Regions from separate parts of the Homo sapiens genome. Here region 2 is linked to region 1. The links come from fine-mapping of genetic effects on gene expression. A gene starts in region 1. The other region holds a variant in brackets. All regions are shown on one strand. Distances are from middle to middle.

What was found.
Region 2: its variant is fine-mapped to the expression of LINC03100 in lung (GTEx, PIP above 0.99). The same link has a PIP of 0.9 or more in vagina and whole blood.

Annotation. Positions count from the first base shown.
Region 1 is chr2:242,085,994-242,090,381 of GRCh38, forward strand. It overlaps LINC03100 (long intergenic non-protein coding RNA 3100), which reads right to left and starts at 2,572. Exons shown (of 1, transcript NR_186294.1): 1 at 1,358-2,572. LINC01881 (long intergenic non-protein coding RNA 1881) reads left to right here and starts at 2,640. Exons shown (of 7, transcript NR_130702.1): 1 at 2,640-2,808.
Region 2 is chr2:241,905,519-241,909,906 of GRCh38, forward strand. The region is part of intron 2 of LINC01237 (long intergenic non-protein coding RNA 1237); the gene reads left to right. Among named protein-coding and RNA genes, the nearest start is that of FAM240C, 7.2 kb to the left of the region's middle. The variant C/T (reference allele first, on the strand shown) is at 2,343.

The DNA of each region.
Region 1 (4,388 bases):
TCTGCCTGGGCAACTGCACCACAATCTCCAGCTGCACCATGTGTTTTGAAAAGCGTTTCTCCCCGCCCCTCTGGGGTTTTTCTCCTCCTCCAGTGGCGAAATTTCAGAGGGCACTGAGTGGGTTACTCTTCACAAGCACAGAGCTAAGCCCAGTCCTGGTAGAAAGCACACACAAAGAAGACCCAAGACCATGAATATGCTGACCTAAGTTGGACAGAACTGCTTCATGGCTTCCTGCTGTTACTCCATGGGTTTCTGATCCTGTTCTGTAGGTTTCTGCTGTTACTCTGAGTTCCTGCTATTACTCTGTGGGTTCCTGCTGTTACTCTGTAGGCTCTGCTATTACACTATGGGTTCTGATGTTACTCTGTGAATTCCTGCTGTTACTCTGTGGGCTCTGATGTTACACTGTGGGTCCTGTTTTTACTCTGTGGGTTCTGATATTACTCTGTGGACTCTGATGTTACTCTGTGGGTTCCTGCTATTTCTCTGTGTGTCCTGCTGTTACTCTCTGGGCTCTTGTGTTACTCTGTGGGTTCCGACATTACTCTGTGGGCTCTGCTGTTACTCTGTGGGTTCTGACGTTACTTTGTGGGCTCTGCTGTTACTCTGTGGGCTCTGATGTTACACTGTGGGTTCTGCTGTTACTCTGTGAATTCCTGCTGTTACTCTGTGGATCTCTCTGTGGTTACTCTCTGAATTCCTGCTCTTATTCTGTGGACTTCTTTTGTTGCTTTGTGAGTTTCTGCAGTTAGTTTACCTCTTTACCATCCAGCCAGGAATTCTTTCACTAGGAATTGTGTGGATGCTGGCCAATTGGGCTAAATTTAATATTACTATGTCCCCTATTGTGGTGGTGGGGTCTTGGCTTGGCAATTTCTACTAGTATTCCATATGCAGTTAATCTTGACACATCAGTGAAAGAAAAATAAAATCTCAGGCCTCCAAACTTACTATGCCAAAGGGAAAAGTTAATATTGGCAACACACACACACACACGCACACACACACACACACACACATACATGCCTTCTTTTTGTTCCCAAAAGCTTACTTTATCTTATGTGAAATGTAGATCTACTGAGTATGAGACAGATGTATAACCCTCCCCCATACCTTTCTTTTCACATGTGAAATGTAGATTTGCTGTACTCTAATCAGAGCCTCACAAAAATGTGACCACTTGCCTCATAGCCTACTCTCCCCTCTTTCCCCTCCTACCGGCGCTTTTCCCTTAAATATTTGGAAAAAAGTACAGGCCAAAAATCCTACTGTAACCTGTGTTTCTTTTTCCCCAGGCAAATCCACAATTTTGGCAAAATAAACCTCTATATCAGTTGTGATCTGCCTCAGACACTTTTTGGTTTACACAACAATCCAATCATAGCGATTTATTTGGAAATATACCTTCACAAGTTAAATCAAACCACAGCACTACTGGGCATTATTTGTAATGGCAAACTATTGCAAACAATCTAAAGCCCATCATAGACATCATAGAAACTATTCTAATAAATTGATACATTTATATAATGGAATAATCCGCAACCTTGAAGGGAATGAAGGAAGGAATAAAGAGAGAGGGTAAGGAAGAAAAGAAAGGAGAGAGGGAAGGAGGGACAGACAGGTGTTTAAATTGGGGATGTGCAAGCAATATTGCCTGCTTCATTGCCTTCACATTATCTAAAAGCATGTGGTCAAGAAACACTATTACAATAAGCACATCAGAAATAACTTCTAAAATTACTTTTCCAAAATATGAATCCATACTATACACTTCCTGTAATGTGCACCAAATGTAGATGCACACATTTTAACAAGGAAAAGACTAATACTCATATTTGCTTGCTACACACCAGACACTGTTTTAAATGTTTTGCACACGTTAACTCATCTGTTCTTACAGAAATCCTGTAGCGTGCACCGCCACCTCCATGTTTCTAGGAGGAAACTGAGGCACGGGGGCTGCGGCTCCTGGACGCACCTGGCCTTCTCGGCCTGCCTCTCTCCCTCCAGCCGCCCCACATTCTTTTTTCCTAATTGGAAAAAACTATTCACGCTGCTCCTCCAGGGCATTTCAACCTTCTAGAAAGACTCGACAAGATTCGAAACTGTTTATAAAGAGAACGTGCTTGTGCCTGAATGCTGAGTGTGAGCGCGCAGTGATGCCCTAGAGTGCAGTCATCCCGGGCTTGGCGCCCAGCGGGTGGAAATACGGCCGCAGGGTGGAAATGCGGCGGCGGGGCTGCCCAGGCTCCTGTGGGACCCGCGCGGCGCGGGCACGCACATTCTCAGGGACGCGCGTCCTCAGGCCACGAGAACACCTGAAGGCCCCGGCCAGCGTCCTCCAGTGAAGACCCGGACCGGCGTCGTCACCCGCCGCGCAGGCCTAAATCTCAGGTCTTCACCGTCATCTCCCAGCGATCGCAGGGATCTCAGGCACTGACCGCGCCCGTCCCTGCGCCCCCCCGCCCCCGCCCCCCCGCGCCCCCGCGCCCCCGCGCCCCCGCGCCCCCACACCTCCACGCCCGGCACTCTGGGCGCGCGCGGACGGCGGGGCAGTGCCTACTACGCAGGCGCACGCTGCGGGCGTCAGGACCCGGCAGCAACACTGCCACGCGAATCCGCGCCGGCCAATCAGCATGGCCAGGGGCGGGGCTTCCCTGAGGCGCGCCGAGAGGCGGTGGCCCACTTCCGGCAATAATCGCCTGGTCGCCGTCAGGTGCCGGCCCAGGTGGCAGGCGCGCCCGTTGGGCACTGGGGGACGCGGGCGCGTCAGGTGAAGACTGGGGGCTGCAGGCGCGCTAGGTAGGTACGGGGTGCCGCGGGCGCGTCAGGTGAAGACTGGGCGCCGCAGGCGCCTTAGGTGAAGATTGGGGATCGCGGGCGCGTCAGGTGGGGACGATGGGCCACGGGCGAGTCAGGTGAAGACCGGGGGCGGCGGGCGCGTCAGGGGAAGACATGGGGTCGCGGGCGCGTCAGGTGGGGACCGGGGGTCTCGGGCGCGTCAGGTGGGGACGGGGTTGTCGCGGGCGCGTCAGGTGGGGACGGGGTTGTCGCGGGCGCGTCAGATGGGGACGGGATTGCCGCGTGCGCGTCTGCTGAGGTCTGGGTCCGCGGGCGCGTCAGGAAGGGACGATGGGCCGCGGGCGCGTCAGGTGGGGTCTGGGGGCGGCCGGCGGGTGTGGAGGGTTCATTCAGGGAGCTGCGGGCGAGTCAGGTGGGCACGGGGACCGCCCACAGGTGCATCGCGTGTCCTCAGCCGCTTCCCCTGCCCACCTTCTGCGACCCCTTCCCGCCCCCACCCTCCTGGGCCGTCTTGCAGGCCCGAGCTTGTGTCCGCCTCGCTGGGCAAGGTGTTTCGGGGACGACTCCTGCCGGCGTTTGCCCTCCGGGCTCGGCCCTTGCCTCTTCGCCGGTGGGCACCTGCTAGGTGTGACCCCTCATTCCTCCAGGCCACTCTGCCCCGTCTGCTGCTTACCTTTTTTTCCCTACTCCTGGTCTGTGGCTCTGGCTCTGTCTCTGTCTCCTCCCTTAATTTCTTTCCATGCTTATTTTTCTTGCAGCAGACACTAATTTTGCATCCTTCCCCTCACAGTAAGCTCAATTTGACCTTTTTCTCAATTAGATTCCACCTCTGTCCTTGGGTCTATTCAAACTCATTTTGAAGACTAAAGAATCTAGAGAACCATTTCTTCCCTTATGAAGCTGTCTCTTGCTGCCTCCAAATCCTTACCATCCGGCCCTAATCAAAAAAGACGTTTACTCTTTCATATTCTGTTTTCTCCTCGTCTTTACATGTTTACCTTTCCCATGAGGAATCTGTGATTATCTGTAAGTCCTTACAGTAAATCTTATTTCTGACTCTCAGCCCTCAGTGTGCCATTTTTTTAAATGTCCTTTCTGGATCAAATTTGTCCACACTTTTAAGCAAAACAAATAGGGAAACACATGTGGTCTTTTAAAATGGATTAGAGTTTTCTTTCCTGTCTTGTTTTCCTTGTTTTAGTGCCTTTATATTTAGATTCATCATTACTTGAAATCATATTAGTGATCTGTAATAGACGGTAAAAAAAAAAGTTAAAAGGCTTATAATTTAATGGCATCTGTTTTAATAGGGTTTTCAGGAACTGCTATTATAAACATAGTGGGTAGGAGCATGGATCCCGGAGTGAGACTCCATCATTTTGAATCCCAGCTCCACTGAACTCTTTGCCTCAGTGTCTTCATCTATAAAATAGATAATGAAACTTGTAAAACAAGAATAATGTTTTCTATCTTGGAGGACAGCATGAGGATTAAATGAGACAACATATGTAGATTGTTTAGAGTAATGCATAGCCTATAGTAAGCTCTAATAAATGTTTGCCATTATTATTGTAAAGAAA
Region 2 (4,388 bases), 180 kb before region 1:
GTGGACTCCCAACCTGCGGGGATCCGTCCCCAAAGACGCCACTAGTTCTGCCAGCCCAGGGTTTCCTGAGTGTTTCCCGAGAGGCCCTGGTTGCACGGAGTAAGTTCTAGTTTAGTCCTGGTTCGTTCTCCCCAAACGTCTCTCAGGAGCTGTGTTTCTTCTTCATGACCTTCCCCTTAGACCTGTGTCAGATCAGGGTTAGAGGTTGGTCTCCTGGCCTGTGTGGCCACCCTGGCGCCCTCGACGCTCTGCCATGGGCTCCCTTTCTTTCATCGGAGGCAGCATCTGGCCATAGTGAAACTGAGTGTGGGGAGGGGGACGCAGAGCTCCCAGGTCCCAGCCCACAGGTGCCTCGGTGGTGAAATCCCCTGACACACTGAGTGGGGCTTCCAGGACGGGGGACGGAAGGAAAAGGATTAAGGGGTTAGGTAAGTGCAAATATGGCTTTGAAGGTTTAAAATCCTTCACTCATGTTGTGAGGGAAGAACAGGTACTAGACTAGAAGCCATGTCTGGTTGCCCTTGAGGGACCCCTCAGCCAATGTGAAGACGTGTCCAGGCAGCCCTGGGAGACATCCCTGTGGGGGGGCCAGTGCAGGAAACGGACCGCCGGGGGAAGCTCCTGTCATCCCAGGGTGGGCCAGGCTGGGACTACAGTCATGTGCACAGCATGGCTGAGATAATGAGCAAGACTCCAAGGTCCACCCAGGGGCCCGATGGCCTTTAGGGAGACCTAGCACTGTTGCAGGATCAGGAGGACCGGAGAGAGACCTTGGAGTGTACACAGGAGGATATCTTTATCATTGAGTGCACTCAGACCCAGCAGACTCAATGTCCAAAGACTGGGCCCAGAACAAAGACAGCGCCTGACTTTTACACACACTTCACAAAAGGGGGTGGGCTAGCTTGAAGCAAGCTTACAGTGGCGTGAAAGCAGGGATACAGAGGCAGGACAAACTCAGGATTGCACATGACTGTTGCCAAGCAACCCACATGTCCGTTATCTAGGTTAACCTGGGCACGGGCTTATCCCATAACCTTCACTATGTTGCCCAGGTGGCCGTAACTCAGGCCTGCTCAGAGGCTCATGACCTTCACTTTACTGCTTAGATAAAACAATGCTTGAAGTCAATAGTTACAGAGAACAGGAATTTATAAACTCATTCCATAAAACAAAGGAAAATTTGTTTTTCTTCTCCCTATATTGAGGGAGTGCTGGGAGAGTCTCCAGAGCACATTAGATAATATTATTATTAAGACTTTTCCTGGGTTTGGGCTGTGCTTGTTGCTGCCTCTAGGACAAGTTAGCCTAATACGGGAAAGCTTATTTCTCTTTCTTTTTAATTTTATTTTTCTTTAATTTCCCACCTCAACACGACCTGAACGTGGCTTAGTCTGCTGCTGGTGTTTGTGGAGGGCTGAATAGTGTCCTTAGGAAATATGTTCAAGCCCTAACCTGTGAACACAGACATTTTTGGAAATGGGTTATTGCAGATGTTATGCATTAGGATGACCTCATGATGGATTAGGGTGGGCCCTAAATCCAATGACCAGCATGCTTTTAAGAAGGGGAAATGTGTGCACAGACACACAGGGAAGGTACGGTGAAGCCGGAGGGAGAGAAGAAGGGACGCGTCTACACTCCAAGTGCAGAGAGAAAAGGTTCAGGGTTGAGGCTCCTGAAACAAGACGGATTCACCAGAGAAAAGCGAACAAATGTATTTTAGTTTTATGTGACTTGGAGCCTTCGTAAGGAAATGAAGACCCAGAGCCAGGTGGACCTGTGTGTTTGTGCTTTGGCTTGATGAAGAGGGGATGGCCGTGGGGAAACGTGGATGAGGACGGGAGGCTGTGATGTGATGGGTGAACTGGGCACCTCAGCACGGCCTGTGTGCCCGGGGGAGAGGGGATAGGTGAGCAGGGAAATGACTGTGTTGACTATACACAGCCACCACCTAAACCTCAGTGTTTGCTTTGTAATTGAGCTCACGCAAGCAAAGCTATCTCCAGCGGGGACTCTCTTCTAAAGAGCACGCACACTTTAATTTTTACCTGTCCTCGAACCAACCCTTTGTTCATTATAACAGTGAAAAAGATACCCCTGGGTGGAGATGTAAGATGCTAATGAGACACACCACCTACAAACAAGCATGTGTGCCGACGACCACCAGACTGTGCTTCCTGATAACACCTCTCCCACTTTCTTTTTTTTTTAAGGTGGGGTCTAGATCTATCCCCAGTCTGGAGTGCAGTGGTGAGATCTCAGCTCACCACAGCCTCTGCCTCCCAGGTTCAAGCGATTCTCCTGCCTCAGCCTCCTGAGTAGCTGGGATTATAGGCATG[C/T]GCCACCATGCCCAGCTAATTTTGTATTTTTTTTTAGTAGAGACGAGGTTTCTCCATGTTGGTCAGGCTGGTCTTGAACTCCCGACCTCAGATGATCCACTCGCCTTGGCCTCCCAAAGTGCTGAGATTACAGGCATGAGCCCCCATGCCCGGCTACCTCTCCCATCTTCTTATGGATCATCGGGTGAGACTCCCATAAAGGCAGCCTCCCTATGGCCGGTCTCTGCTGTCTCACCCTCATGACCCACCCTGAGTCCTTTCTCCCTTAGGGTGGCCTGTCTATTCTGCACCTCACTTTCAAAATACTCTTTTTTTTTTTTTTAAAGACAGAGTTTTGCTCTTGTTGCCCAGGCTGGAGTGCAGTGGTATGATCTTGGCTCCCTGCAACCTCTGCCTCCCGGATTTGAGTGATTCTCCCGCCTCAGCCTCCCAAGTAGCTGGGATTACAGGCGCTTGCTACCATGCTTGGCTAATTTTTCTATTTTTATTAGAGATGGGGTTTCACCATATTGGCCAGGCTGGTCTCAAACTCCTGACCTCAAGTAATCCGCCCACCTCGGCCTCCTAAAATGCTAGGATTACAGGCGTGAGCCCCTGCAAAATACTTTTCTTCTTTTGCAATAAGTTACTCTGTGCTGCACTTCTTTTGCAGTGTGTCTCTTGTTTAAATTCTTTTGAACTGAGAAGACGAGAACTGTCATCACGTCAGCTGTCAACACCAGTTCTCTGTGTCCTGTATCTTCAGAGAGAAGGGCGTGTCTTTTCCCCGGGTTTCGGGAGGGCGTCTCACATCAGGGTCTTGGGGACCTGCTGTAGGGGAGAAGGCTGAGGGGAGGTGAGAGAGACCTTCCTGCTTCTGCTGTTTTCACAGTGCCAAGGTGCCATACTTTGGGGTAGCGTGTCCCGAACCCCATCAAAAGCAACACAGAGGGTTGCTGGGGCATGGCCGGGAGCAGATTCCCTTTCACATCTCCGCAGGAACTGACCCTGCCGATGCCTGACCTCAGACTTCCGGTCCCCAGGCTGTCAGACAGATTTCTGTTTTGCTTAGTCGGGCAGACGCTAGGCTCTGTCCCCTACGGTGGCACCATTGGTGCCGCTCATCGGTTCTTTTCAGGCGGCACAAAGTCCTGCACACGTGTGGGCCAGGTCTCCAGGAGATCTAGGCAGAGTGAAATGCAGATTTTGGGGTCCCCTCTGGCTCTGTCCTTTCCAGGAACTCCTCTTTCCTCCCTGGCTGCCACAGTCACCCCGTTGCTCTCTGGGTCCTCATGCCGGAGGGACGGTGGTTTCCTACCCGAGGCTTTGCTCCCCTGCGTGGGCCAGCTGCTCTCGAGTGGAATGCCTTACAAAAGGAAATCTGCCTGGCGCCACGGCTTTCCTCCGAGTACGGACGCCTGTTCAGTCTCTTTCTGCTTCCGGCTGTGCCCGGTACCTTCTGGTGGTTGGTGCCTGTATCTGTCCAGGGGATGTAGGTGGTGTGTTGGACTGACATGAGCTGCTTTGCCATGACTGGAAATGGAGCCTCAGTGTTACTGGAAAAAGGGTCTCAATCAAGACCCCAAGAGAGGGCTTTGGATCTCTCGTGGGAAGAAATTCCAGGCGAGTTGCAGAGTGCAGTGAGAGAAGGAAGTTTATTGAAAACTACTTCATTGCAGATAGGGCACCCTCAGAAAGCAAGAGAAGCAACGCCCCAGCTTTAGGTTTTTCTTATATAGGGGTCTCGTCTGTGGAAAGACCAAGCCAAGCTGTGCCTACATGTAGGTGAGCAGAGAGCATGATATTTTCTTATTCTATGTAAGGAAAACTGTCCTTGACATTTTCGTGTGTGAGTCCATCAAAGCATAACTGGAATGATCTTAACAGCACACATTGCTGGGGTTCTGGACGTCTGGACTCTGTTGTTGGAGGAGTGTGTTTTTGCAGGCGTCACCAAGCTGCCTCTTTAGCTGTGAACATCTTAGGACCGGGGGTCATGACTGTGTCCGGCGAGTGGATTTTAAAATGGTGTGATTCTGGCTCTCCTGGGCTCCTGCCTTCCTAACA